2 separate regions of the Homo sapiens genome follow, and region 2 is linked to region 1. Evidence: fine-mapped expression QTL. Tissue or cell type: CD8 T cells. Region 1 holds a variant in brackets; the other region holds the start of a gene. All regions are shown on one strand. Distances are between the middles of the regions.

Region 1 (15,430 bases):
AGAATCAAACTAGAGTATATAACTGGAATCATAAAGTATTTGTCTTTTTGACTGGCTTCTTACACCTAGCATAAAGTCCACAAGGTTCATCCATTGTTGTAGTGTGTGTCAAAATTTCCTTCCTTTTTAAGGCTGATTTTACATATTCTTAATGCTTAACATTAAACATTATTTTTTTTTCCTGGCCAAAAAAAAAAAAGTTGATCTGGGGAAGCCCTAAGATAGTTCTCTCTAACCACCTGGTGTTCAAGCTGGGATTTATTCAGGCTGAGTGGGGTAGAACTGGGAGTGGATGGTGGGTTGAGAGGCACAGGGTGAGGGGTGTGCTTGCTTGCTTTCTAAGATGAGTTCAGCCCTACCCCAGGTGGCCAGAGTGTCCCCAGCCTCTAACCTATGGTCATTGCCTTATGAAAAGCAGATCAGATCAGAATGTGGGGATTTCCCAGGCCCTTGGTGTGCAGTTACTCTGGCCAAGCCCTGTGGCCACAGATGGTGGTACTGGGTGGGTGGACACTTATGGATACTGGCTCAGCCTGTGCCGAGTGGCTAGGGGTCAGAGGGCTGGTGCCTAAGGCTCCCAGATGGGCAGACCCCTGGGAGTGTCTCTGTAGGTCAGCATGGTGTCCTGGCATCCTTCTTAGGAGAGGGGCTTTGGCTTGGCCTAGGCATAACCGAGTGTCTCACGGCCCCACAGGCCTTCCTCGAGACCACCCGGAGAGTTACCACTCCTTCATGTGGAACAACTTCTTCAAGCACATTGACATCCACCCAGAAAACACCCACATTCTGGATGGGAATGCAGTCGACCTACAGGCAGAATGTGATGCCTTTGAAGAGAAGATCAAGGCTGCAGGTGGGATCGAGCTATTTGTTGGAGGTGAGCTTGACACTCTGCAGCACACATGTCCAGGGCCAGACCCGTGGGAAGGAGGACAAGACACAATGCCTGTCTGCAGACAGCTTCTTCTGGGTGTGCTAGTGACCGTAGAGACAGAGGCGGGAGAAATGGGCCCTGCCTGGCTCTGTTACTCAGGAACTATGTTATCTTGGAGATCTCTTTCTGCAGTTTGATGCCTTGTCTGTAAACTGAGAGGTTTGGGTTTGGACTCTGAGATTCTGTCTACTCCCCAGTCTTAAGGTTTTATGGATCAGTCCTGGAACTTATCTAAACATTTAACATCATGGACTCATGTAGTTCCGGAAGGCTCCACACAGCCCCTGTAGATAGCCAGTTGAACCCCAGAGAAGTTAGGTGACTCACTCAAGGTTCACAGGTGGGAGCAAGTGTGTGCTTCTTGGATTTGTGCTCGGGTCCTCTGGGCTGCCCTTCTGTGTATCCATCTATCGCCACCTCTGGAGTTACCCATGAGGGGTAACATTGAACTGCCTTTTATTGCTCTAGAGATCACTCTTCTATACTTCAAGGTGGGGAGGAGGGGGGCAGGACCTCTCATCCTCTGAGATTTTAGAACCTTGGCAGCCCCTGTCCAGGTTCTCTGGGTGTTTTGTTCACTGCACCTCTATCCCAGCAGCAGGACCCTCTAACTACAGGCAGAAGAGACAGAGAAGGTCCACTTTTCTGACAATCTGGGGAGGCAGAAGCTGTTTGGAGTGTTTCCTCCTCAGCTTTTTGAGGGTGATAGCAAGTTAACAATGTCTGTGTGTGCCTCAGATAGACATGATGGGGAGGGTCTCCTCTGAGACAGTATGGCAAAGAGAAAGAAATGGTAGGGAGGGGGACAGATCACATGTTTAAGGTGTACCTGCCCAGGGCTGCAAATGAGAAAGGTGACACAGCTTTCAATGATTTTTCTTCAGACCCTAGTTAGGGAAGGAGAGATTGTCCATTCTTGAAATCTTGGATCCCTGGGACTGACAGGGCTGCACGGGCTCTCTCCCTATAGGCATCGGCCCTGATGGACACATTGCCTTCAACGAGCCAGGCTCCAGTCTGGTGTCCAGGACCCGTGTGAAGACGCTGGCCATGGATACCATCCTGGCCAATGCTAGGTTCTTCGATGGAGAACTCACCAAGGTGCCCACCATGGCCTTGACGGTGGGGGTGGGCACTGTCATGGATGCTAGAGAGGTAAGGGCATAAGGGCCCCACCAGCTTGCGCTGGTGGACTTGTCTTTCTCTTGTTAATCTTAACTATACTGGTACCACCTACATTCTTATTAAAGATGAAGGCATGGTAAATAAGGCTAAAATCCCTGCTGACCCTGTTACTCACTGTTCCTCTTGCGTCTTTGGAAGACATCATTATTCCCAGTGTGAGGTGAATCCCTTGAGCACGTTTTTGGTGCCTTTGGCTGACTGCCTGAGACAGCAGGCTCTCTGGCCTCAGGCCCCTTTCATGCTTTTCACAGGCAGAGAGGAGGCCAGCATCGCTAATGTTGGAATATTTGTACCTGACCAGGTATGGAGAGAGGGGTTCCCTTGTTCCTTGTAGTTGGTAGAGGTCACTGTTGGGACACCAAGGATGCTTGTGCTTCTAGCCCCGTGCTCAGAGATTAATAAATGTGGTGAAGTATGATTAAAATATAAGTGTTTTAAACTGAATTTAGCTTTTCCCCTAAAAAATTGGCTATCATTTGAATGTGAATTTTTTGTGGTTCCAATTTCCTTATTTTCATTAGAACTTTAGAAGCATTTTCTCTTCCTTTCTGACGTGTATAGACATGTTAGATTTACATTTCTTTGCCCAAGCCAATAAACAAGCATCTAAATCAGTGAAAACTTCCCTGTTTAAAGTGAACTTTTGTGAAATGAGTGATGGCACCCAGATTTCTGTTGGGTAATCTTCAATCAGTACGTGGGGTGGGGGTGTTTACTCGCTGTTTTTAGCTCTGCAGCTTGGAAACAGGTTTAGGGCCGTCTTTATCATGAGGGCATCTTGATCTGGGAAAGGACCTGGGGCTGGAAATCAGGAAATTATCTTTTCTAAAGAGTTCTGGGTTGCTGAGGGGTCCGGAAGAAATAGTCACATTCCCTCTCTGCTTCTGCATTCTAATCTTTTAAGAAAGGAACAGTAAATCCTGTTCACAACTCTGTGGCACATGTGAATTAAAATGAAAGGAAATCTACAGAACTGAGTTTTTTTCTCTTTTCCTGCCCTTGAATAGAGCTGAGTTCTTTAAGATCACTTACATTCTCGATATTTTAACTGTTAAGTGGAGACTGTGCCTTTGTTTTATTATATATTAACAAAAACCATCACCCCAAGTCACATTAGTTCATAGGTTTAATGCTGTGAACTGAAAGTGACCAGATAATGGGGCAACCTTTCTGGGATTCAGCCTTAGAGGCCCCACAGATAACTCCCACCATTGCTTGCAAAGTGCCCTTGCTGGTGGTGCAGGTTGGGAGCCCTCTTTCACAAACTGTGCTTGTGTAGAGTCACCCAGCTGATGGGATAGCAGGCCTGGGCATGGCATGTCTGTTTACAGGGCACCTTCATAGTCATCATCAAAGATACCTGGAGGCACTGTCACGTGGTAGTCAAGAACATGAACTTTGGGGTCATAAATGACCCTGGGCAAGTTATTTAACCCCCTGGGGCTCTGTTTTCTTATAAGATGGAGATAATGATGCTGCCTGCCTCGGGTTATTTGTGTGATAAAGCACAGGGAGCACTGAGCAAAAGTATGTTGCATGGTAACCACTTACAATGTGATATGAAAAACAATCATCCTTACAACTGTTTAGGGTGTCTGGAATGCTCCCCTCCATCACAGACTTGTTTTCTGATCCCCAGGTGATGATCCTTATCACAGGTGCTCACAAGGCATTTGCTCTGTACAAGGCCATCGAGGAGGGAGTGAACCACATGTGGACCGTGTCTGCCTTCCAGCAGCATCCCCGCACCGTGTTTGTGTGTGACGAGGATGCCACCTTGGAGCTGAAAGTGAAGACTGTCAAGTATTTCAAAGGTGAGGGAGGTGTGGGTCCAGGAGGAGGTGGTCAAGCTTAGGGTGTGCTAGGAGTAAGGAGTAGATCCAGCTTTCATCCTCTGGTCATTTTAATTGACAACTGTAATCTTAAGAAATATCAAACCCAACTGCATCACACTACACAGTCATTTCTCTTCTGCCTGTGACTGCAAAGATCCATTTCTGGAGATCTGTTTGCTCTGAGGAGGAGGAAAGAAAACGCAATGTGGTCCAAGGACTATGTGGTGACCTCACAGTGCCATTAAGCCTCAGGTTTTCTCTTTTCAAATCTTAAACAAGCGATTCCTTTCTTTTATTTACTTTCTTTCTTTTTGAGACAGGGTCTCACTCTGTCGCTCAGGCTGGAGTGCAGTGGTGTGATCTCAGCTCACTGCAACCTCCACCTCCCGGGCTTAAGTGATTCTCCTTGCCTCAGTCTCCCAAGTAGCTGGGATTACAGGTGCCCGCCACTATACCCAGTTAATTTTTGTATTTTTAGTAGAGGCGGGGTTTTGCCATGTTGCCTAGGCTGGTCTCAAACTCCTGACCTCAGGTGATCCACCCACCTCGGCCTCCCAAAGTGCTAGGATCATAGGTGTGAGCCACGATGCCCAGCCCTTCTTTTACTTTAAAAGGATGCACACTGCTTTAGGCAAACATGTGAAAATCCTCTTTTACTCAAGTAGGTCAATTAGGAATTTGTCCTTTGCTGAAAAGACTAACCTTTAAATAGCCAACTCCCATAGTGATTGAATTTATAAAAGTTCCATGAATGTAGTACTCACTGTGAATAACTCTTTTTATACTCTTAGGGTGTTTATCATTTGGGGATCATAGAGAAAAGAGAGAAGTGTCAGCTCTAAGACAAAATTTGAGAGCTCCTGGATGTTATGATTGATAATCAAGGAACTCTTGCCACTGCCTGAATTAACTACTTTTTGTTTTTAATTTTTTGTAGGTTTAATGCTTGTTCATAACAAGTTGGTGGACCCCTTGTACAGTATCAAAGAGAAAGAAACTGAGAAAAGCCAATCTTCGAAGAAACCATACAGCGATTAGCCTGTGCTGGGACCTAGTGTCAAGTACCCATAGGGAAAGGCAGGTCTTTCTGGAAATTGTCTTTAGAAGAAAGAATTGTATTTCTTTAATCTAGTATGGTTACTCCAGATAAGTGGGTGAACTTATTGTTCTTGGCCATGAGGCTGGGAGCCTAGTCACGGAGTTTAGCTATAGGGAGAATGTTTGTAACTTAATCAGAAAAAAAATATCTGCAAAATGTACTCCATCATTTTGATGTCTGCCAAACCCAGGTTGGGAGTTTTAAACTTTTTGTTCTGCTTCAGCCATGGTTCACACATATGACACACTCCCGTCAGGAATTTCTCTCCTTACACGCACTGATTTTCAAGTGGGAGGGAATTAGGGGCTTATGTATATTGGATACCACCTCTTTGAAGAGTCTTGAGAGTCCTTCTTGCACAGGCCTGCCCCTTGGTTGAGAACCATTGTTCCAAGTGAAGGCACAAACTCTCAATATCTAAAATAAGTGCAAGGAAGCAGTCTCTTTGGTCAGTAACAAGTGCAATGGAAAGAAAACGATCCCTTCCTTCTTCCACTTTCACAGCTTTTCTCTGAACTAGGAGAACCTGGGGGTGGATTTGGGTGGGTGGGGCCAAAGAGGAGGCTTCTATTGATAAATCCAGAGCCTCAAGGGGCCCAGCCACGTCAAACTTCTCTCCCTCAGGGACTCTCCAGCACCAAAAGGCAGAAGGTGGAAGCCGTTTTTCCCCCAGAGCCCTGTGTTTTTGTGAAAGCCTCACTGTGGCTCCTCTGTTTTACATACTCATTAGTAAGTGGGAGGTCCACTGGGGCAACAGACACTGCCACAATTTCAGTGTTGTGTTCAGCCAAGGGGACGGTCTGGGCAGGCAGCTTAAGTGTGAGTTTAGTCACAACTCCTGAGTGTCCCGCTCTCCTGCTTACCTAGGAGGTGAGTGCCAGGAAAATACACCAAATGCTTCTAGTATTGTTTCCCCACTTAAAATAGTCCTGCTTAAATTCACATGGTGTGGTCTGATGTTCTGAGAGCATCAGGAAATACAACCCTTTTGCCCATTTACCCTTCTCCCCGGATCCCAAGGTGGTCTGTTGCTCTGGCTTCCTTTCATTGTCTTAGGCCTTCATGGAGTGGATGCTGCCTCCTCCTGGCTGTTTTTGTGCCTGTTTGAAGCTACTGCTGCCTCCATTTCTGGGAAAGACCTTTGAGAGCCTAGCCCAGGCCTAAGGGCTATGTTTGGTACCAGTGTTTTGTCTTTAGCTTTTCTATGTGATTGTGCCGTCATTCTGTTTTAAGCTCATGGATCAATGGATTTGTTTACAATGTGATATTTTCTATTAAATCCAGTATTTTCAAATAACATGTCATTTGTGGATTTGAGCCCCCAATTTTAGAAGACTCTCTGGGCTATTTATATATTTTAGAAAGAGCTGGTAAGCAAAGCCTCACATTCAGTCCTCACAAGAGCCTGCAGGAAGGCCACAAGCATAGCAACCATCATCAGAGTGAAAAATAAGATTTTATGAAAATGGAGCACTTACAGGAAAAAGGGTAGGAATGAACAGATGAGCAATAAATTGTCATGTTGGGGCTGTACCTGAGATCCAAACGAGGATACAGCTGTTATAAAGATTAAGGCAGATTTGTGATGAGGGATATTATTGCAAGGTATGCAAAAATACATATAGGTTTTTTTTTTTTTAAAGTTAATATAATGGAATATCTTAGGGCAATATAGCCAATTAAGGAGGTAGATATAGAAGTTAAAAGAAGGGTTTAATTTTTTTAACTATTTTGAGGCTGGGTGCAGTGGCTCATGCCTATAATCCCAGTGCTTTGGGAGGCCAAAGCAGGAGAATCACCTGAGATCAGCAGTTCAAAACCAGCCTGGGCAACATAACAAGACCCTGTCTCTACGAAATTTTTAAAAATTAGCCAAGCATGGTGGTGTATGCCTGTAGTCCCAGCCACTCAGAAGGCTGAGACAAGAGGATTGCTTGAGCCCAGGAGTTCAAGACTGCTGTGAACTATAATCGCATCACTGTACCCCAACTCTGGACAACAGAACAAGACCCCATCTCAAAAAAATATATTTTTTTGATATAAATCCAATGATTTTTATGTTTATAGAATACTGCACTTCCTTACCACAATCCTTTTTTTTTTTTTTTTTTAAAGAGAGAAAGTCTCACCCTGTCTTCCAGGCTGGAGTGCAGTGGCGCGATCTCAGCTCACTGCAACCTCTGCTTCCTGGGTTCAAGTGATTCTCCTGCCTCAGACTGCCCAGTAGCTGGGATTACAGGTGTGCACCACCACACCCACCTAATTTTTGTATTTTTAGTAGAGACAGGGTTTCACCACATTGGCCAGGCTGGTCTCGAATTCCTGGCCTTAAGTGATCTGCCTGCCTTGGCCTCCTAAAGTGCTGGGATTACAGGCATGAGCCACCGCGCCCAGCATCACAATCCATTTCTATCATTCCCAAAAGCTCCCTACTCCTAACCCCAGCCCCAGGCAACTACTGGTCTGCTTTGCGTCTACAGATTTACCTTTTCTGGTCATTTAATATAAATGGAATCATGTGACATGACATCTTTTGTGTCTGGCTTTTTTCACTAAGCATAACATTTTTCAGGTTCATACAACACGTAGCAGCAGTCCATTCCTTTTTATTGCTGTATAGTATTCCGTTTTGTGGACATATATTTTGTTTATCCAGTCAAGAAGGGTTTAAATTTTAAGTATGTTATAGTAACTACATTAAAATGAGACAAAAAAGGACTTAGTGATGACAGCTAAACTGGAGATACCTGTATGAACTTGAGACCTTAGAAAGATCTGATGTCCTTCCTGAGTCTGTGTTTTCCTGGTGGCTCAACAGCAGTGTACTGCTACAACCAGTGCTTATGCGATCAAGTGGGATGTACACCCCTGGGTCATCTTGGGCTTCTAATACCAGGGCTCCTTGTACAGGAGCTAATATGTTTGGGGGTAGGGATCAGAGTAGGCCTGGAATATCTTGTTACTGGAAATAAGGGTGCTTTCAAAAATGTCTGGGGCTGGCCAGGAGCAGTAGCTCACGCCTGTAATCCTAGCACTTTGGGAGGCTGAGGCGGGCGGATCACCTGAGGTCAGGAGTTCAAGACCAGCCTGGCCAACATGGTGAAACCCCATCCCTACTAAAAATACAAAAAATTAGCCAGGTGCAGTGGCGTGCACCTGTAATCCTAGCTACTGGGGAGGCTGAGGCAGGAGAATCGCTTGAACCCAGGAGGCAGAGGTTGCAGTGTGCCAAGATCATGCCACTACACTCCAGCCTGGGCTACAGAGCAAGACGTCGTCTCCAAAAAAAAAGTCTGGGGCTTGTCCCAGGAAGTCTGGGGATGAAAAAAAACAAAACAAAAATGTCTGAGGCAGTTCTGAGAGGACGAAACAGCCAGTTAAATGGGTTCCCACTGAACAGGTTTTCACAATTTGATCAAAAAGGAAATACTAAATACAGCTGACTGGAACAAGTTGAATTTGTAAAACAGCAAGTTTGATAAGAAAAGGAAAATGTAATATTAAGTGCACACAGAGCTGTATTTCAGGAAGAGTAGACAGAATGTGTTTACTTACATTTAGTAAAAAGTGGCAGTGTTGACATCAATGGGTGCCACCTTCCTTCTATTAGTCTGTTTATAAAGTAGAGGTGAACACAAGAGCCTGGCTATTACCCCTATGGCCTACTCTTCTACTCTTTCCGTCCTTCAGGCCTTGCCTCAAATGTCATTTATCAGATTAACTCTTCCCTGATCCTCCAATATAAAGCTGCAATCCCCAAGTTCCTATCCTTGCCGTGCGCTATTTTCTCAGAACCCTTTACCACTGGACGTGTATTTTGTTTCCCACTAAATGTAAACTCCATGAAGGTAGATGTTAAATACTGCTCTATTCTGCCCCTATAGCAGTGCCTTGATATCTAGAAGGCACTGGTACTTGTTGAACCATAAGCCTGATAGTTGTCCCCATGAGTAGTGATCGTACATAACAATCAGGGGAAATCATGGCATATTACATAATGGATTAGCCAACTGGCCTACTGAGGAGATCTAACTTGGAAAATTTGATGCTTCTTTCCTGGGAACCAAAATCCTTACTGTGATGAGATGCTAATGAAACACGTCCATTTCCGGTAAGATACAGTGTGACAGGATTTAGAGTTATGCAATAATGGGCAGGTAAAACAGAACATAGTACTTTGGACCTCAGGGGAGCCATTACCACCAGCTGGCAGTCATACTACATTAATAATCAGACTAGTCCATTTAGTATCCTCAAAGACTAAATCATAAGGTCCCAAACCTCTAACCCCTCTATCCCAGCTTTCCTTTCAGCTAATGACCTTGAAAACAGAAGCAATCAGAAAAGAATGTCCACGAGTTCCCATCATCACATACCCAGACGTCAGCCCTGCTCTCACACTTGCTGTCTTCCTGTTACCTGCTCCTTGGCCGAGCCCTCTGCTTGCACACCAGATCCCATCCTCTCTTGCCTCCTTGAGGACGTTGCTCTGGCAACACTCCCAACTCTCACCTACAGCATCAAATTGTCCTCTCCTGGACCACTCCTATGGCATTCAAGACAAGATTTAAAAACAAAACTGTACCTCATTTGCCCCCTAAGTACATCCTCATTTTTCTGATCTCCTTTAGAGTAAAGTTTCTAGTTACCCATACTCTGACTTTAATCTCTCACTCTTCTATTCTCTCTTCTCCTTCTGGTATGGTAGTCGCCCCTTCATCCACAGGGCATATGTTCTAAGACCCCCAGTGAATGCCTGAAACCGTGGATAGTACTGAACCTGATAGTTTTTTTTGATACACATATACCTATGATAAAGCTTAATCTATAAACTAGGCGCAGTAAGAAATTTACAAAAATAGAATAATTATAATACACTGTAATAAGTTATGTGAGCATTGTCTCTCTCCCTCTCAAAATCTTATTGTACTGCACTTACCTATTTTTGGACTACAGTTGACCATAGAAAGTGAAACTGTGGATAAGGGGGAACTACCGTATTCCCATTACGCGTAGCTACACTTTGCCTTTTTTTTGGAAACAAGTTCTCTGTTGCCCAGGCTGGAGTGCAGTGGCATGATCTCAGCTCACTGCAATCTCCACCTCCCGGGCTCAAGCGATCCTCCCACCTTAGCCTCCTGAGTAGCTGGGATTACAGGTGTGCACCACCACGCTTGGCTAATTTTTGTATTTTTTTTTTTTTTTTTTTTTTTTTTGTAGACACTGGGTTTTGTCATGTTGCCCAGGCTGGACTCAAACTCCTGGCCTCAAGCAATCGCCTACCTCAGCCTCCCAAAGTGCTGGGATTACAAGTGTAAGACACTACATCCAACCTACACTTTTAAAAATTATCCCACAGTTCTTGGATATTCTGCTGTTTTTAAAAATTTTCCATTCCTTTTTGAAATCTTTCAATTTCAATTTGGGAAGTTTCTATTGACATATCTTCAAGTTCACTGATTCTTTCTGGCTGTGTTCAGTCTTATGAGCCCATCAAAGTCATTCATGTCTGTTTCAGTGTTTTATTTCTAGCTTTTTTTTTTTTTTTTTTGAGACAGAGTTTCGCTCTTGTTGCCCAGGCTGGAGTGCAATGACACGATCTTGTCTCACTGCAACCTCCGCCTCCCGGATTCAAGCTATTCTCCTGCCTCAGCCTCTCGAGTAGCTGGGATTACAGGCATGCACCACCACGCCAGGCTAATTTTGTATTTTTAGTAGAGATGGGGTTTCTCCATGTTGGTCAGGCTGGTCTTGAACTCCCGACCTCAGGTGATCCTCCCGCCTCAGCTTCCTAAAGTGTTGGGATTACAGGCGTGAGCCACTGCACCTGGTCTTTTTTTTTTTTTTTTTTT[G/TTTG]CATTTCTTTTTGATTCTAAGTTTCCATCTGTTGCTTATACTACGTGACTATTCTTGCATGTTGTTCATTTTTTCTATTAGAAATCTGGCACATTAATCAGTTATTTTAAATTCCCAGTCTGATAACTCTCAAATTTCTGACATATCTGAGTCTGGCTCTGATGCTCGCTTTGTCTCTTCTTTTTTCCCTTTTAGCATGCTTTGTACTTTTTTACTGAAGCCAGACATGATATATTAGGTAACAAGAACTTACGTAAACAGACCTTTAATGTGAGTTGTATGTTTATCTGGCTAACAGGCTGCATCTGATGTTCGCTGTAGGTGCTAGAGGCTCCAATTTTCCTCAATATCCTTGTCTCCCCTGTTGTCTTTGGGTTTCCCTAGAAATTCCTTCTTAAAATAGAGTCCATGTCTTGCAGCTCTCAGTTGTAATCCACTGTTATCCTGGAGCCCTACTGATGGTATCGTATTGGTGAGAAGATGCACTGCATATTCTTATGATTAAATCTGTCTTTTTTTTTTTTTTTTTTTTTTTTTTTTAGTGGAGACTTGTTTTTTCCTCCTCCTATGTGAGACAGGAAGGCTAGAAGGGGGTTGAGCCATCCAACTGCCCTTCTCCTAAGCTAGAGAAGGCTTCTGCAAGTAGTTTTCCCTGAGAAAACTGTTCTCTGCCATGGAGAACAGAAGATCTGGGGCTGATTTCTTCCTGGATGTATTTCAAAAGGATTACTTTCCCCCTTCCCGTGTCCAAAGCACAAGGGAATTTTCCTGCCATCTTTACAGGAGAACCTAGTGGGTCTCCTCGAGGTAAAACCCACCAAAGTGTGGGGTTCCCTTAGACAAGCTCCCGGTTTTGAACCCTCAAGCTAGTCCACACTTAGCCCACAGCAATATGTTTAAATCTCAATTACTGTCTCCAACAGCTTCTGCCTTAGGTGAGCCGATCTCCATTTTCCTGCCTGTTTTTGCGGTGAAGGTTTGCCCTGTGACCTCAATTCTCTGACAGATGTAAGAAAAGCTGTTGATTATCGGTTTGCTTAGCCTTTTTCTTATTATGAGGACACCCCATTCTTTCTCAAACATACTCTAGATTTGCAACTGCCCTCCACTGAAACAGCACTTGTCAAAGTCCCCAAGGACCTCAATACTGACTGCTTCAATTGTTACAGCTCACAGTACTTGACCTTTTTGCAGCGTATGACACAGTTGATTACTCCTTCCCTCAAACTTGACTTGGCTTCCAAGACACCACACACAGCTGGTTTTCCTACCTCACTGGCCACTGTCTGTCTTTGCTGGTTTTTCCTCATCTCCTTGACTTCTTAGCATCTGGAGTGACCCACGACTCAGTCCTTGGACCTTTCTCTACATAAAACTCACTCCCTTTCTAATCTCATCTAGTCTCATGACTTTAAATGCCATTTACATGTTGACTCCCATAATTCTATCTCTACCCTGAGTTGCTCCCTTGAACTCCGGACTAGAATATCCAACTGCCTGTTTATCATTTCCCCTGGGATAACTACCAGGCATCTCAAACTTACCTGTCCACAACCAAATTCCTGATCTTCAGCCACAGACCTGTGCTACCTACAGGTTTCTCATCTCAACTGCTCAGACAAAAATACCTAGAAATCAACCCTGATGCCTTAATTTCTCATATAGTCAGCCTGTCAACAAATCCTATTAATTTTACCTTCAAGGTAAGTACAGAATCTAACCAGTTCTCAAAATTCTAACTTCTGGCACACTGGTACAAGCCACCTGCACTTCTCACCTGAGCTACTGCAAATGGCCTCCTAACTGGTCTGTTTCCACCTTTGCTCACCAATCCCCTAAAGCACACGCCTGACCCTATCACTCCTCTGCTCAATGGCCCCCTCTCAGAGTGGCAGCCAAAGTTCACACAAGGCTCTATACAGTCTACAGGACCACATGCTTACATCCCGTCTCTCACTCTTCCTGGGTCTGCCTCAGCCCTCACTGGCTACCACACTGTTCCTGGAGCCCTCTTACATGCTCATAGCCCAAGGGCTTTGCCCTTGCTGTCTCTGCCTGGAATTCTCTCCTCCCAGGTGTCCAGAAGGTTCAATCCCACACTGCTGAGACTTTGTTCAAGTGCTATCTTGATGGAGTCTTCTCTACTCTTTAAGATTCCAACATTGCCCTGCCTCCCCTAACTCCCTATTTCTTCTCCCCAACTTCTATGGTTTTTTTTTTTTCTTTTTTTTTCTTTGAGACAAAGGTCTTGCTTTGTCATTCAGGCTGGAATGCAGTGGTGTGATCAAGGCTCACTGCAGCCTTGACCGCCTGAGCTCAAGAAATCCTCCTGCCTCAGCCTCTTGAATGTCAGCTGGGACAACAGGCACATACCACTGCACCCAGCAAATTTTTAGTGTTTTTTTGTTTTTTAAGAGAGACGGAGTCTTACTATGTTGCCCCGACTGGTCTCAAACTCCTGGCTTCAAGTGATCCACTCACCTCAGCCTCTCAAAGCACTGGGATTACAGGAGGGAGCCACTGCGCACGACCCATGGTACTTATCTTCTGATGAACCAGATAATTTACTTAGTGTCTCTTTCCTTCCGCCAGAATTTAAGTTCCACATGGGCAGGGAGATTATGTCTGTTTTATTTACTGCTACATTCTCACCACCTTGAAAAAGAGTAAGGCCCATTGCTGGGTATTCCATCAGTATTTGTTAAATAAGTGAGTTATTCTAGGAAATACTATAGGTTGCAAAAAGTAGAATGGTACTGAGGGTAAGACAATCGCTTTTAAAATTTACATGTATTTATGTTGTATTAGTGTGAGTTTAGCTGCTTTTCCTTTTTTGGTTTGTTTTTATAATGAAGGGAAAAAAGGAGATCCAAGCAAGGAAAAGAAGTGACTGTGTTAACTTTGTACTTAGCAACTTCAGCATCAAATCTCCCTAAGTTTCCAATGTACACAATCTTCTCCAAAGCATCCTCTGGCTCAGAGAAATGTGGGAGTCCTTGGAGTGGTAAATCTTCAGACAACCTGAGAAACTGTACAGTCTAAACGATGGGTGATGAAAGTTGATTATTACCATAAACATTGGCTAAGAATACCCCTAAAGCTCCCATAACCAGATTTCTGACCACACTCAGTCTGGCCTGATTTTTTTAGTTAAGCTAAGGTTTGGGGAGCAGGCTGGCTACTCTTACCAGCATCAGAGGGCACCATGGGGTTACAATTCCTTGGTCCTACTTAGGGGCTTTATATACAACTTAATTTCCCTACTTTGGTGGTTGAAGGTTAAGTGCCACTATCAGGAGTGACACTCTACTATGTAACAATTGCATAAGATGTCAACTGTGGTTCACATACACTTTTGAGTATTTAAAAATTTCTGATAATACTGCTGTTCCTGCCTTGATAGTACTGTTAGATACCATTCTGTCTACTAAAGTATAAAACAGACTATAATGAAATATAATGAGGAAAATTTAAATACCAGAAATTAAATCTACTTCTGTAACAAAACAACATACTCTATACCTGTCTTAACTAGTGACGATATTTTTAGAACATGGGAACTGCTGCCACCTGCTGGTGATGCTTATGGCAAAGTTAATACTAGGTAGGAGGGAGATCCAAACTCCAGTCAAAATTCTGAAATTCCCTTTCAAAGCAGACAGCCACGTGAACAACTTTATTATTATCTCCTCTAATTAACTCTCATTGCTCTTGACAGAAAAAATAAATACAAAGTATATGAAGAGATTACTAATGTAAATTAGAACTGTCTACTACTAAAAAAATGACTTTGGGCAAATGACTTTGGGCTGGGTGCGGTGGCTCACACCTGTAATCCTAGCACTTTGGGAGGCTGAGATGGGTGGATCACTTGAAGTCAGGAGTTCGAAACCAGGCTGGCCAACATGGTGAAACCCCGTCTCTACTAAAAATTAAAAAAAATAAAAAATAAAAAATTAGCTGGGTGTGGTCGTGGGCACCTGTAATCCCAGCTACTTGGGAGGCTGAGGCAGGAGAATCACTTGAACCCGGGAGGCGAAGGTTGCAGTGAGCCGAGATCAAGCCACTGCACTCCAGCCTGGGTGACAGAGCAAGACTCCGTCTCAAAAAAAAAAAAAAAAAAGACTGCTGACTAACACCACAAATCTGTCTGGGAATATGGCTTCTGATACTGAGCCTTTCTTACGTTCACCAGCTCCTCCACAGGTCAACAGGAAGGGATACATCTACTCAACAAACTTCGGGATTTAGCCAAGATGGCAGGCTAATTCTCACACCAGGGCACAGTCTAATGGGTCCAGCTGACTTCCTGACTTGATCAACTTGCCCAGTGTTTAATGATGTTTTTCAAGAAGCCGAGCAGGAAAATTACCAGAACAGGTGAACAGCCTAAAACTGCATACACAGCACTGAAGCATCCTGAGAAGTAACTGATTTAAAGCTACAAAAGACCTCAGTCAAAAAGAAATCACTGATTTGCTGAGCCTGCTAGGATTAGGTAATCTGTCTTCAAAAAGTTTTCTGG
Region 2 (15,430 bases), 31 kb after region 1:
GTTTCGCCATGTTGCACAGGCTGAGCTTTTGTCTTAATACACATTAGTCTATTGATCTTCATTATGACTTCTAGAAAAGCAGCTGCTGATTCATTATCTCTCCCAGAATGCTTTATATTATTTATATTTAGCTTCAAGCCATATTTATGTCTCAATCAAGAGTTGAGGTTGTTACTAGAAAAGTATATATAACCCAGAGGAAATGAGGTGCTTAACATAAGGCCTCAAGCCTTACTGAGATATCTACAGGAACTATACACATTTCTACTTGTATGCATTTATGTCTACGTGATACCAGTTGACTGTTATTTGTTATTAATACAGATTTTTACAAAGAAAATCAGTTATTGTATTCACTCAGAAAATTTGCTTATTATAACTACATTAGCTCAATTTTTAGTCCTAATTACAATGGAATCTTTCATTTAAGGAATGGATAAGAAACTAAGAGAAAAGTAGTATCAATGTCTAAGGAAAATGAGGAAGACCTCTTAGTCTCCATTATAATACAGATTAAACAGGAAAATAGCAAGACAAGAAAAGAAATAATATACTTGATTAAAAATTACTCCTACTACAATTCATGATTGTTTTAATTACTGCCATTCCTTTTTAAAACACCAAACATTTTCAATTTCTTAACATCAGGATTCACCAAGGCAAGGGAAAAAAATTACAAAACCAAAGCCATTTGTTTTTCATGCACTGAATTCAAGATCTTTAAGATAGTCTTCAATTAAAGGTGATTTTTAAGTTTCTAAAAATGGATAGGAAAAATTAAGTTTCAAGTCTAACCTGAGTTGGTGACAGCCATTTGCCACTAAGTGTGAATGAAGGTGGGGAAGAGGATGGATAATCTGGTGGCAGTTCAAAGTTCAGCACAAGTGGAGGCAGAAAGCAAATGGTGTATTCAAAGCCACTATTCTGGAGACACTCATTTGAATTGCCTGAACCAAAAACAAAGATTAGAAAGGATCAGTTGGTCAACACTTGAGTGTCCACTACTGTTGAGCAGCGCTCAAGAAAGACTTAATGCTTTAGTTGAGGGAATAAAAACCCTCCCCCAAAGCACTTTCTATTTCTTAATTTTAACTTCGTAGCCACCACCTTAAAAAAAAATCTTGTAAGCCCTTGAAAAATCTACAGCACCATGAAATGTATAATGAAAATACTACAACTTATTCTTGTATACACTTCTGAGTACAATTCCTAACACTAATGACCAAGGAACACACAATGTTTGTTTTGTTGTGGTTTGGTTTACAGTGGATGATTGAAGACACAATCTAGAGAAAGGATGTTCATTTCCATTGAACAGCATGACCTACTTAGACCAGCATGTCCCACTTAGACCAGCATGTCCCAACTACCCATGAATCAGTTGGGAAAATTTGTGCCAACACAATGATCTCAGGTTTGAGGATATAATATAGCACACAACACTCTCACAATCAAAGTTTCATTTAAATTACCACACTTACTTTCCTTACTCAATCCCTTTATAGTAGAAACATTTTGAGAAAGTGTGCATCAAAGTCTTCTGTAAATGTCTGTATCAAAAGCAGCAGTTTTGTTTTTTCTGAAGCAAAAGGTCACAGAGTAATAGCATGTGTCATATGTTTATAGTAGTTGAAATGATTCTGGAAACCAAATAGTATTAACCACCACCACTGTACTTGAAAATTTCTAAGCGTTTTCACATACATTCATTTTCTCTTTGATTACTGCTATGTAACAGCCAATGACTCATGGCTGATAAACTGCTAGTTAGCAGACCAGGATGTATGAAATATGCAGGATAATATCCCTCTTCAGTGATCAAAAAGGTAGAATCAAATTGAAAACTGCTTGCCCCTCATTGCAATTTTCATTTAAAACAGAAACATGCATTACCTCTGTAATACTACCACCTATCACTAATGCCTAAAACACAAAATGACAAATAGTTTAAGGTACACTAAGAAATAAAGAATAATAGAAAAATCTGTTTAAGAAATTATTAACTAACCGCTCACAAATATCTTGAAATTCTGTGGCAAATCCAAATAGATCCTGGTTTCTCCACCTTGGACAGACTCTGCTTTTCTAAATTCATCTCCATCGTAAATACTTGCCAGGGCCAGCAATTCATCCTCCTGAGCTTCTCGATCTTCTGACGACATAAGGACCTGAAAACATTAAAATCAGTTAAGAACAGAAAATGCACAGAGGCTGGCCGGGTGTGGTGGCTCACACCTGTAATCCCAACACTTTGGGAGGCCGAGGCGGGCGGATCACCTGAGGTCAGGAGTTCAAGACTAGCCTGGCCAACATGGTGAAACCCCATCTCTGCTAAAAATACAAAAATTAGCCAGGCGTGGTGGCAGGTGCCTGTAATCCCAGCTACTTGGGAGGCTGAGACAGGAGAATCGCTTGAACCGGGAGGTGGAGACTGCAGTGAGCCAACATCACGCCACTGCACTCCAGCCTGGGCGACAAGAGTGAAACTCCGTTTCAAAAAAAAAAAAAAGAAAAGAAAATGCACAGAGGTGGAAAAAGCTTAATGGCACAAAAAACAACTGCAAAGAATTAATCGATATTATCACTTTTCTCCTAAACCAAAAATGACAGCCATATCTGGCATTCCATTAGTTTTGCAATATTAACAGTCTTTTTCAAAAGGGATGGTTGTGGTACTTCTAATTCCTGATCTTATCAGTTAGATATTTTATGACTGAATTAGAGGAAAAAAAGCACAATTTGAAAATTTTCTTTGAAAAGGACAAATCACAAATTTACTTTGACTTGTCCACTGAACCTAGCAATGTGCCTGGTTCGCAAAAGTGGTCAAAGTATATTACACTCCTTTCTTAAGTTAATTTGCCAGGCGCGGTGGCTCGTGCCTGTAATCCCAACACTTTGGTAGGCCGAGGCGGGCAAATCACCTGCAGTCAGGAGTTCGAGACCAGCCTGGCCAACGTGGTGAAACCCCATCTCTACTAAAAATACAAAAATTAGCTGGGTGTGGTGGCTCACCCCTGTAATCCCAGCTACTCGGGAGGTTGAGGCAGGAGAACTGCTTGAACGTGGGAGGCAGAGGTTGCAGTGAGCTGAGATTGCACCATTGCACTCCAGCCTGGGCGACAGAGTCAGACTCTGTCTCAAAAAAACAAAAAAGTAAATTTTTTAAATCCACAGGAATCTTTAGGGCAAGTTTTCTTAGCTTCAGCTCTATTGACATTTTGAAGTAAATAATTGTTGTTGGAGAGCTGTGTTGTGCATTATAGAATCTTAACAGCATCCCCTGGCTTTTACCCACTAGATACCCAATAGTGGCCCGCTTCCACCCACAAGAGCTGTGACAACTGAAAATATCTAGCCAGGTGTGGTGGTGCTTGCCTGTGGTCCCAGCTACTTGGGGAGCTGACATGGGAGGATCACTTGAGCCTGGGAGGTCGAGGCTGCAGTGAGCCATGATAGCACCACTGCACTCCAGCCTGAGTGACAAAGTGGGACCCTGTCTCAAAAAAAAAAATATCTCCAAATAGCGCCAGGTCCTGGGGCAGGATGGGGGTTGGAGGCAAAATTGCTCCCAGGTGAGAAAACAGTGCTTGAGAATGTTACAGGCATAGATATTATGGAAGAAAATTAGATAACTGAGCAAGCAGCAAAATAATATTAAATTTTTGAAATAATAGATTTTGTCAAATCCAAGCAGTCACCAATTTAAAGATTCACCATTATGACTCAAGAATATTTAAAAGATAATAATTTTAAGAAAGATTTACCATTATTTTAGGTAATACTAAGAATTTAGCTACAAGGCCCAGGCACAGTGGCTCAAGTCTTTAATCCCAGCACTTTGGGAGACCAAGGCAGGCAGATCACTTGAGGCCAAGAGTTCAAGACTAGCCTGGCCAACACAGCAAAACCCCATCTCTACTAAAAATAAAAAAATTAGCCGGGCATTGTGGTACACGCATGTAATCCCAGCTACTCGGTGGCTGAGGCACGAGACTAGAGAATCACTAGAATCCAGGAGGCAGAGGTTGCAGTGAGCTGAGATTGCACCACTGCATTCCAGCCTGGGTGACAGAGACAGACTCTGTCTCCAAAAAAAAAAAAAAAAAAAAAAGGAAAGAAAGAAAGAAGAAAGAAAGGAAAGAAAGAAAGAAAGAAAGAAAGAAAGAAAGAAAGAAAGAAAGAAAAAGAAATTAGCTACAATTAAAGTATGAACTGGCTGGATATGGTGGCTCATGCCCGTAATCCCAGCACTTTGGGAGGCCAAGGCAGGAGGATCACTTGAGGCCAGCAGTTTGAGATCAGCCTTGGCAACATAGCAAGATCCTGTCTCTATAAAAAATTAGCCAGGTGTGGTGGTGTGTGCCTGTAGTCCCAGCTACTCAGGAGACTGTGGCAGGAGGATCGCTTGAGCCTTGGATGCTGAGGCTGCAGTGAGCCGTGTTTGCACCACTGCACTCCAGCCTGGGGGACAGAGCAAGACCTTGTCTCAAAAAATAAAGTATGAATCAATGTTTTTTAAAATAGCATCAACTGAAAGATACAGCAATTTCAGATAATTTAAATGTGAAAAAAATATGCAATGAGAATTTACAAAAATCATTTTAATAAAACAAAACTACCAGTCAATTAAAATATTGAACTACAATTGCATTTGCAAATATCCTCCCTCACAACTAAAATATTTTTAATTAAAATGTACATAAGTAAAAAGTTAGGATTTTTTACATTTTAAAAGGTCATACTATGAAATTAAAAATGATTTCATTTTCAAAAAACACTTTTTTTCTAGGAGATGTTAGTTCATGGCTCTGCTTAAGCTGCATCCCTATCTAAGACACAATTACATGTTCTACTTGAGGTCAGTTAGTACCTGTTAATAACAATCAGAAGAAAAGGATATTAACACCGCAGTCTGTATTTCAGCTCAGAGTGGAGTTCATGCAAATCCCATTTATTCTCTAACTGGTGGAGCTGAGACTGCTGAAGCTGGGTAAGAGGCCAAGATGTGGAACTCATACTACATATATTATGAAAATCCTGCCATCTGCAGAAAAGAAATACAAAAGATGGTGTTAGGACCCTCTCCAAATTAAAATTCTGAATTTCCATGATCACTGCTTAAGTCAAACATATCCTAACATATAGCCAATCCTAATCTACAAGTGCATGTTACTCTCCTAGGGCAGGCTAACTGAGCCATGTGGTTAAAGGAGTATTTGCATGTCCCCAGCAATGACTGAGGACTTTTTATCTGTCTGCCCTCAGCTATGGGAGGAGCTAAGGAGGAACACCAAGGTCATATGAAAGTACAGGACACCATGCCCCATAACAAACAATCTCTTCAGTTTGTTTTTTGTTTTGTTTTTTTCTCCTTTCCTCTTCTGCTTCTTGTATTCCTTCATTTGCCACTCCCCTCCAGTTTTTCCTCTCTTGTTCATGAATTAAGCCTGCCAGTGGCACTCAAGGTTAATTTTGGTAACAGAAAAATACTTAAACAAAACAAGAGTACACAAACACAAACTTTTAAGTTTTATTCTAAATGCTTTAGAGCTAGGCTTCTTCACTGGGGTGAGGGGAAAAGGGAGTGTGGTCTATAGATGGGCTACGGAGAATCCTATCAACACCCTAAAATTATATGCAAAAATACTATATACAAAACCATAATTAAAAACCAGATTCTCGGATGTGTAACTCCCAAATGAGATAAGAATGAGATTCAGAATCAATTTACATTAATTGAGCACCTACTATGTACTGTATTAGGTCCTTTCACATTGTCTTATTTTACTAGGTGGGAGTATATGGTGCTAATTGAATTAAGCTTTTTGTTTCTTCCTGTTAAAACATTTGCAAATGGGATGAGAGATTCATTCATGCAGTTTATGGTTTTAGGTTAGTGTTCTCCATCTGACTGCACATTAGAATCTTCTGAGGAGCTGTTTTTTAAAATCTCAATACCCAGGCCACACCCTAGAACAATTAATTCAGGCCTCAGTAGTTTTCCAAGTTCTCCAGGTGATTCCAATATGCAGCCAGGGCTAAGAACTTCTACTCCAAGCAGTTTCAACAGTTCCTCATGACCTACCCTACAAGATTTCAGCTTGTGAAGCTGTCACTTGGAATCCAGTACCTCAATTCAGGTTGCTAACCCCCATTTCCTTCTCACTCTATCCATTTGGTCTTCGGGTGTCCTAGTCTGGGTTCAGCTCGCCACTAGGCGTGCGGCGTCGTTTGGGCGACTGCCCCAAAACAGGGGCAGGCCCAACGCTAGCTATCCGCCCCAACGCTGGGATCAGAGGGCGCAATGCGGATGTGTGAGCTGCTGGCCAGCCTGGGGCGTCCCGAAGGAGCAGGGCCCACACCTTCCCCTTCCTCCTCAGCGTCCCGAAGGGAGTCCCGGCCAGCCGAGCTGCGGACGCCCGGTCCCGGATTTGAGGGACTGAGGCCCAGTGTACAGTCCCAGCCCGGTCCCCTTCTCTGCCTCGCGCGCCCAGAGAGCTATCCCCACCGTACCTTCCGGCCGCCCGGCAGTGCCGAACCCCAAAGTTCCGCCCTCCGCCCTTGCCTGGGGCCCACTCACCGCCGCCAGCCGACCAGGCCTAGAGACGCCCTGCTCAACCGGCGCGCCGCCTCTTCCGTTCTCGGGAGCTGTCAGCTGAGCCAGGCGGATCCCGCTGGCGCGACCGCCGGCATAGGGAGGACTCTGCGCAGCCGCCGTGGTCGCCCCTGCCTCTCGGGCGCCTCCCGCAGGCCCAAGGCGGCGCTGCCGGCGCGACCACCGTCACCCCCACTTACTGCGAGCCCTGTGCTCACAGGAGGCTCTTTTCAGTAGTTCTGATGGGGCCCGAGAATTCGAATTTTTACCAATCTCTAGAGGGGATCATGAGGCAGTGGTCTACCTAGGGCAGAGACTCTCACAACAATCCCAGACCTGCTTCTCCAAGTGGACTAAGCAAGCCTACTTCCTCCCGTTTACCTTCTCAGAAATGCTGCCGGTCTTTCTGGCACTCCACTGTGGAAGCACGCATTCATCGCTCATGTTATAACTGTAACACCGACCGCATTTATCGAGTAGTTAGGATGCTTCAAGCAGTGTGATAAATGCTCTACGTAAATTTTCTATCTTCACTGTAATCTTATGATTTAGCTACCATTTGTTATTCTCACTTTACAAATAAGGAAATTGAGACTTAGGTGCAAGAACTTACCAAGGGTCACATGATTATCGTCAGGCTAAGCAGGAATTAAAATTATACACTTCCTTCCTCACACCATATGCAAAAATTAACTAAATATGGATCAACGACCTAAATGTAAGAACTAAAACTATAAAACCCTTAGAAGGCCGGGTGCGGTGGCTCACGCCTGTAATCCTAGCACTTTGGGAAGCCGAGGCGGGTGGATCACGAGGTCAGGAGATCGAGACCAGCCTGACCAACATGGTGAAACCCCGTCTCTACTAAAAATACAAAAAATAAGCCGGGCATGGTGGCGGGCACCTGTAGTCCCAGCTACTAGGGAGGCTGAGGCAGGAGAATCATTTGAACCCAGGAGACAGAGGTTACAGTGAGTCACTGCACTCCAGCCTAGGTAACAGCGAGACTCCGTCTCAAAAAAAAAAAAAAAAAAGTCAAACACAAAAAGCCATATATTGTTTTTAATTTATATGAAATGTCCAGAATAGGCAAATCCATAGAGACAAAAAGTAGTTTAGTGGTTGCCAGAAACTAAGGCAGGAGGGAATGGGAAGTGACTGCTAATAGATACCGCTAATAGATATGGTGTTTCTTGGGTGATGAAAATATTGTGGAATTAGAGAGCAGTGATAGTTGTATAACTTTGTGAGTGTACTAGAAACCACTGGATTGTATACTTTTGAAGAGTTAATTTTATTGCATGTGAATTATGTCTTAATTAAAAAATTTTTTTAGGTACAAAGCACCGTTCTCAGCGCTTAAGTGGAATACAGAAATGTTGGCTCCTTCTCCTGGGACCCATCAAACTAATGTGCTCCTCACAATCTAATAAGCTCCTGTGTCCGCTTTTTCATATATTTCTTCCTCCAAAAGAGTAACTTGCAGAGCTAAGACTCTAACCCAAGCCTACAGGATTCTAAAGCTTTTACCACCATTGCCTCCCGGGCAGGATTAGATTCATGGGCCAGCAACCCGTGCAGTCACATAGGGCCCTGCACTTAGAAGGGCCCCAGATTTAGAAGTGGCCTGCTCTTAAGAATGATACAATGGACTTTGGGGACTTAGGGGGAAGGATGAGAGGGGGACGAAGGATAAAAGACTACAAATAGGGTGCAGTGTATACTACTCGAGTGATGAGTGCACCAAAATCTCACAAATCACCATTAAAGAACTTACTCATGTAATCAAATACCACCTGTACCCCAATAACTTATGGAAAAATTAAAATAAAAAAGAAGTGCCCTGCTCTTGATTTGATGCTGTGCTCTCACCCTCTTGAAGTTCTTAATAATTTCTGAATGAGAGGCTGCATTTTTATTTTGCCCTGGGCTTTGTAAATTATGTAGTTGGTCTTATACCCAGGAGAGAGAAAAAAACCAAGTGAGTAAATCAGGGCACCCAAGGGATTACCTGGCTGCCACAGAAAGAACCTTGAAATAGAAATAATCACTTCTAATTTTCTGTACTATAAATCTTGATTGTCACAAAACAGAAACCAAAATACCCTTCTAATAGATACCAAAACCAGAAACATATCTCGGAAAAATGCAAAGGACGGAAGAAGAATCTCCAAAGCCATTCATTAATATAATTATTCATGTTTAGCCAAAGGAATTAGACCAAGAGCAAAACACACAGCAACCCTACCTCAGAGTGCTCAGAGAGGGGAGACCAGAGACCTCTTCGTGAGGAAAAAAGTGAGGAAGCCCATGCACCAACCAGCTTGGGAAATCCTCACAAAGTCAGAGCAGAAGGTGAATTGTGACATCATGTCAGAGGTCACAGGATAGAGAGAATAGAAAGAGAATTTCAAAGCAGTGTTAATAATTTACTGAATGTTTAAAGTGAACTAAAGATTTAGAGTCAATTTTGAGGACAAGATTGGGTAAAGACAGCCTTCTAATAAGTTTTGTTTTTGACTCTAGGAAAATAACAGACTTTTGTGTCTTTGGTCTCATGTGCCTGGTTAGTCTTTTAAACTGCAGTCTCCCCGTGTGCCTAGCCCTCCACTGTGCTAAATATTTCACGTACATTCTCTCATTTAAATGCCCAGGACCCTATGACTTAGGTAATTTTATGTGCCCACTTGACAGAAGAGAAAACTGAGGCACTAAGATTTGTTTTTTTAATAAGGCCTTTTATATTTACACAATTACTATTTATGACATTTTTATTTATTTTTAATATAAAAAGATGTAATAAAAGACAGCAATGTCATAAAGTTGAAGTCAGGTGTATTATACTTTGGGGTTTTGTTTTGTTTTTGAGACCGAGTCTCACTCTGTCACCCAGGCTAGAGTGCAGTGGCACAATCTCAGCTCACGGCAACCTCTGCCTCCCGGTAGAGGGTTCAAGCGATTCTCGTGCCTCAGCCTCCTGAGTAGCTGGGATTCCAGGTGCACACCACCACATCTGGCTAATTTTTGTATTTTTAGTAGGGATGGGGTTTCACCATGTTGCCCAGGCTGGTCTTGAACTCCTGGGCTCAAGTGATCCACCCGCTTTGGCTTCCCAAAGTGCCGCGACTACAGATGTGAGCCACGGCGCCTGGGCCACTTTTTTTTTTTTTTTTTAACTTTTAAGTTCATGGGTACATGTGCAGGTTTGTTATGTAGGTAAACTCGTGTCACGGGGGTTTGTTGTACAGATTATTTCGTCACCCAGTGACGAAATATTAAGTCTAGTACTTTTTATTCTTCCTGATCCTCTCCCTCCTCTCATCCTCTCATCCTCTACCCTGTAGTAGGTAGGCCCCAGTGTGTGTTGTTCCCCACTTTGTGACCATGTGTTCTCATCATTTAGCTTCCACTTACAAGTGAGAATATGTGGTATTTGGTTTTCTGTTCCTGTGCTAGTTTGCTAAAGATGATGGAGGCACTAAGGTTTGGCCAGTATCACACAGTGGTGGAGCCAGGGTTAGAGCCGATTCCTCATCAGTCTGACTCTCTCCAGGAGCCTGTCAGAGAATAAGGGTTTTTTGTAACAAATTCACAGAGAGTAAAATAGTTCTGGCCTTAAGAACTAAACGGGAAGGCCCTGGGGAAGTTAGGATTCGAGTTTATGACTTAAGGATAGGTGAGAATGAGAACACAGACAGAGAAAGAGACCCAACTCCCACCCCCTGTCCCCAGGGACACCGGATGATGACGGAGCCTAGGGAGAGGAGAGGTTACAGTGTACCACCTAGACCAGAGGTCGGGACCCAGGCCACGGAGTGGAGAGTAGAAGTGAGTCACAAACTATGGCTTGTCACTATAGGGGTTAGCAGACCTGACGGTGCCTGCATTTGTTCCCATCCATCACTGGCATCTGGTAGCTGTCCCGAAACTTTGCTGAACTCATCCCACCATCCCAGGGGGGACTGCCTCCTTTTCCATGGCCACCACTCGCAAGCACTCCTGCAACAAGCCCTTGAACACAGAGGGGCAGCAGTGTGGAGAGGAAAACCCTGCCCAACTTTTGGATAAAACTGAACCTTAATGAGCCCTACCCCAGTACAGAAGTGTCCCTGACTTCTTGCTGGTCTCTTGTCATTGTGTATTTGCTCATCATGTAGATCTTAAAAGTCTATTATCATGTGGGCCTCTGAAACATTGTTTTTTTTTAAAAAAAATTAGAGGTTTCAGGCCAGGCGTGGTGGCTCATGCCTGTTATCCCAGCCCTTTGGGAGGCCGAGGCAGGTGGACCACCTGAGATCAGGAGTTTGAGACCAGCCTGGCCAATGTGGTGAAACCCTGCTTCTACTAAAAATACAAAAAAAAAAAAAAAAAATTAGCCGGGCTTGGTGGCGGGCACCTGTAATCCCAGCTACTCGGGAGGCCGAGACAGGAGAATCACTTGAACCCAAGAGGCAGAGGTTGCGGTGAGCCCAGATCGCACCATTGCACTCCAGCCTGGGCAACAGAATGAGACTCTGTCTCAAAAAATAAAACAAAATTTAAAAAAATAGAGGCTTCATCCTAAAAAATTGGAAGTGCCTACACTAGAAGCACAATTATAAATAACGCTTAAAGTGCTACTTATATCCCAGGCCCCACTCTAAGTGCTGTATGTTAACTAAGCTAAACCCAACATCAACCCTATAACATAGCACCATCATCATCATCATCATTCCTATTTTAAAGCTAAGGAAACTGATCATAGATAATTGACTTGCCATCGTCACACAGATGGTAAATTACAGAGCCAATCCCTGAACCCAGGCAATTGGTGCCCTGGGCCCACATCATTAACCCCATTGCTATGCTTAGACCAAGTCAATACTTGGCTCAAGGAAAGTGGTCAGCTGGGTCTGTAAGGAGAAATAGCCAGATTACCTGCGTGACCAGCTTCCCTGGCCAGTGCAACCTAAACAATAACTCAGGTCAGGTCAGCCCAGGGTTATATAAAGACAGACTGCTACAAGGGCTTGAGGTGGCTGACAGTATAAAATGTTTTCTGTGCTTTTGATGCAAGCTAAAATTTGATTTACAATAATAGGCACAGAATGATCATGTTTATACTCGCAACCTGGCATTTTATTATTATTCCCCTGAATAACAGTGAAAAGAGTTTTGTAACCCCAAGGTAACATGGCTCTGTAAGGAGGAAAGAGGGGTGAGATTTAGCAGCAGCTGCCATCATAAATCAGTGTGTGGCTGTTTCTCTCAGAGCTCCAGGCTCAACTCCTGGCTGTCATAAACTTATAAAGGGAAGCCCCATGAGAATTTATGTAACGATGGGAAGACTCATTTTCCTTCCTGCAAGAGCCTTTCTGAAGCAAGGAGAGAATTAGGCCGATTAGATTCTATATGAAGAAAAAAACCAAGCCAATGGTTTAGAGGAAGGGAAAATGTGGGTCAACTTGAGCTACTTCCCTTGCCAAAAAAATGACCTTGTAAATAGAGAGGAACATGCTAAATTCCACCAAATAAATGAGTGACTGGATGACTGAATGATTTAATAAATGAGTGTAATCTAGGCTTCCTCCAGGGTGGTTCTTTCGTGTAAAACAGTTCGATCTTGGAGTCACCCAGAAATGCTGAACACATAACAAGGCCAATCAACAGAGTTCGCTTCTGAATATTCATGCACAGATGATGCTCCCAGTCAATATGTTTGATTTTTTTTTCTGTTTACTAATAGATTTTCAAATTCACTGTGCAAACCAAAATTCTTAAAAAAAAAAAAAAAGGAACTTGTGTTGAAAGCATACATTATTTCTGGGCAGAGTTGTCAGATTAAAATATTTATACTAAAATTATTCATTGTTTATCTGAAATTCTAATTTAACTGGGCACTCTGTATTTTTATTTACTAAATCTGGCAACCCCTTTCTGGACCAATAACCCTACGTAGAGGAAAGGACAGAAGATAGCTTCTAGGGGACATGCCTGCACCTGGGAGTTAGAAGGAAGGAAAACCAAAGAAGGAGCCAGAGAGGCAGATAGAGGAGTCTGCAGAAATATGGAGAGAGAACCAGGTGAGTATGGAACTCTATAATGAATAGTGACACACATGTCAGGGAGAGGTGGGGACCATGAGGATGCTGGGTTAAGAAAGGCCTGATCGCTATAGAGTTTGGCCTTTGCAATGGGGGATGGTGATTCTGAGAATTTCTAATAGGTGGTTCTCGATGAAGTTGGGGTGGAGATAAGGATGCATGTCGGAATCACCCAGAATATATCAAAATTGAAATCTGTACACCAGAAGTAGTGCCCTTCCTCTCGAAGGTTGGGGAGAAAGACATGTGTGTGTAACTCTTATCAACCCAGAACTCAAGTGGTCCAGTTTTGGGTCCATGTTATGGTTACTAACGCACAAAATAAATTTGGAAAAGAACATACAAATCTTTTCTTGTATTTTTCTTGAAAATCATGAAGGAGGTCTATAATTTGCAATAACGAATTCAAAAGTCCTTTTCATCTTCATTCTACCTCCTTCACAGCCTCTGCTGTTGTCTGCTGTATTGCTCTCCAGAATTTTCTCAGATTGCAGAAATCTCCCTCCTCCCGTCTATTTATTTTTATCACGTAAATCAACTTAGCCTCTCTTTCCAGCAAAAAGGTCCAATCAAATTCCCCAACCCTGTCCCAAATGAAGGGTGCGGAACTGAGCTGGCAATTACAGACTATTCTTTGGCAGTATTCTGGGAAAGGGAAAAGTATGAATTTTCTTGCCCTGTCCCTGGTATTTTGTAAAGCTTTCCAAGTGACTTCGATATCTGGACCCTTTTGAGAACTGCCGCTGTTAACCAAGACATAAAGCTTTTTCATTTCTTGAAAGGTCCTATTTCTTGGCAAATTTCTCCCTGCAAAGTGCATTCTTTTTTCTGCACTGACCCCAGAAACAGGTGCCATTGTGTGGGAGACAGCACCTGTCATCTGTCTCAACAAAGTCCACAAAGTGCCCTGCTAGGAGCAGATAACCCAGAACATCTACCTGAGTCTCCCAGTCAAGATTCCTGGTCTGACTAGGAATCTAACTTCAACAAGATCTTCCTGAAAAAAGACGCTGAGCTTGGACGGTCCAACCACCTCCCTACCTGGGATAAGCCGGAGGATGCTTCTTGGCTTCCCCAAAGCTGTCTTGGTGGTGATGCTGTGGCAACCACAGGGGAGATTCACGAGGAGAAAGCCTGGAAGACCAGAGCCCTGGAAGTGGGGCAGCCAGCCCAGCGGGACATTCGTAGGGGCGAGGTGTGATCTCAGCCTTCATTCAGCTGGCCTGGGAGTCCTCCAAGGGTCAGAGTCACACCTTACTAGTCTGACCCCTCAAGGTTCCTTAGGACTCCAGGTGTTTTAAGAAGATTCTCTGAACCCCCACCCTTCCCACTTCACCCCTCAGCCCTCCCTGTGGTTAAGAACCCAAGTGTGAACAACCCCAAGTTTGGTGGTTAGTGAGGCCTTCAAGCACAAACCCTAATCCTGCCCTTTTAAAAAAAATATTTTGGACTTAAGGGAGGCTGTCCTCAATTGTTTCAAACCTATTTCAGAGTACCTCCACTCCTTCAAACCTATTTTCAAAACTCAGGAAAACGTCGCCTTTCCAGACGAACTCTAGTGACAGCTCCATTCACCCCTTGGCATTTGACTGCTAAAGATCAGCTGACCCCTGCAGCCAGAAGGAGGAGAGAAAATTGCTAAATGGGGACCTCATTTCCAGAGGTGATCACCTTAAAAAAGTCTGGGGCCTTGTTTGCCAGCTTTGAAATCTCAAAGGGTAATCTTAGCTTCATGTCCCCAGTGTGAATAAAACAAACAATAAAAACCACCTATGAAATCTAAATTCAAACTTTCTTGCGACCTATGCATCATTTTTTTGCATTCACATTCCCAGTCAAAACACAGACACACACACACACACACCCAACAGATATATAACTGCATGTAAAATATATATAGATAAAACAATGTCCTCTGAAGAATATAAATGTTAACACAAGTAAAATTATCATGAATTCCATAACTCCTTCTGTGGCCTTGGTCCACGTTAGGTTTTCCATTAAGAGATACTATTGTCATCAGTGAGTAGCTTCTCCTGTTGTATTCTTCTGTGTAGCACGGGGCTGGAGCTGTGGATATTTATGAACCCCAGGCACCCACTTCCTGTTTTCGTGGCTGTCCCCGGTCCCTGCCTCTGTGCCGTTTTCTCTGCCTTTGGCCACCAGATGGCGCTCTGGAAACGAGTTTTCTGCATCAAAGCTCCCCTGCATTACTCTCAACTAGGCTCCCTCCCTCTTCTCTGTTCCCTTCCAAGCCATTTTCCAGGGTGCAGCCAAAAGGCCTTTCTGGAGGGCACATCTGTGTGATCTTGGGCAAGTTACCTAACGCTGTGTGCTCAGCATCTTCAATGTGATGGTATGGCTGTGAGTGCGTCATGAGAGGATGTAGGTAAAGCACTTAGGACAAGGCCTGGCATGTGGTCGCTGTTCTCATTATCCTGCGTAGAGCTTTTCAAAAGCACTCCACGACCTTCAGGACAAGGTCTAAATTCTTAGCCATGGGAACCCAGGCCACTGCATCATCTGAGGACCCCTGCTTATGTCCCCTGCCCAACCTTCCTCCCTACACTACTGCACTGACCCTCTTGCAGCACAGCCAGGAGCCAGCCTGCCCACTTCGGGGCCTTTGCCCATTTTGCCCCTGCCACCAGCTTTGCCTGTCTCCTGCCTATTCAACTTCCTCGGGCTCACTCCTCCAGGTCCGTCAGGATTCAGCGTGTGCCCTCCATGAGGAGCCTCCCGGACCCCC

The links.
Region 2: it holds the start of RNF14, and the variant in region 1 is fine-mapped to the expression of RNF14 in CD8 T cells (CEDAR, PIP 0.90).

Annotation. Positions count from the first base shown.
Region 1 is chr5:141,991,591-142,007,020 of GRCh38, reverse strand. GNPDA1 (glucosamine-6-phosphate deaminase 1) reads left to right here. Exons shown (of 7, transcript NM_005471.5): 4 at 695-877; 5 at 1,905-2,089; 6 at 3,759-3,933; 7 at 4,892-6,350. The coding sequence ends at 4,992. Among named protein-coding and RNA genes, the nearest start is that of GNPDA1, 14 kb to the left of the region's middle. The variant G/TTTG (reference allele first, on the strand shown) is at 10,906.
Region 2 is chr5:141,960,321-141,975,750 of GRCh38, reverse strand. RNF14 (ring finger protein 14) reads right to left here and starts at 6,646. Exons shown (of 9, transcript NM_004290.5): 1 at 6,584-6,646; 2 at 4,874-5,047; 3 at 2,009-2,168; 4 at 796-947. The coding sequence starts at 2,162. LOC124901095 (a long non-coding RNA gene) reads left to right here and starts at 5,971. Exons shown (of 3, transcript XR_007058977.1): 1 at 5,971-6,143; 2 at 12,537-12,660; 3 at 13,126-13,204. RefSeq lists an enhancer at 6,464-6,613 and a silencer at 6,724-6,863.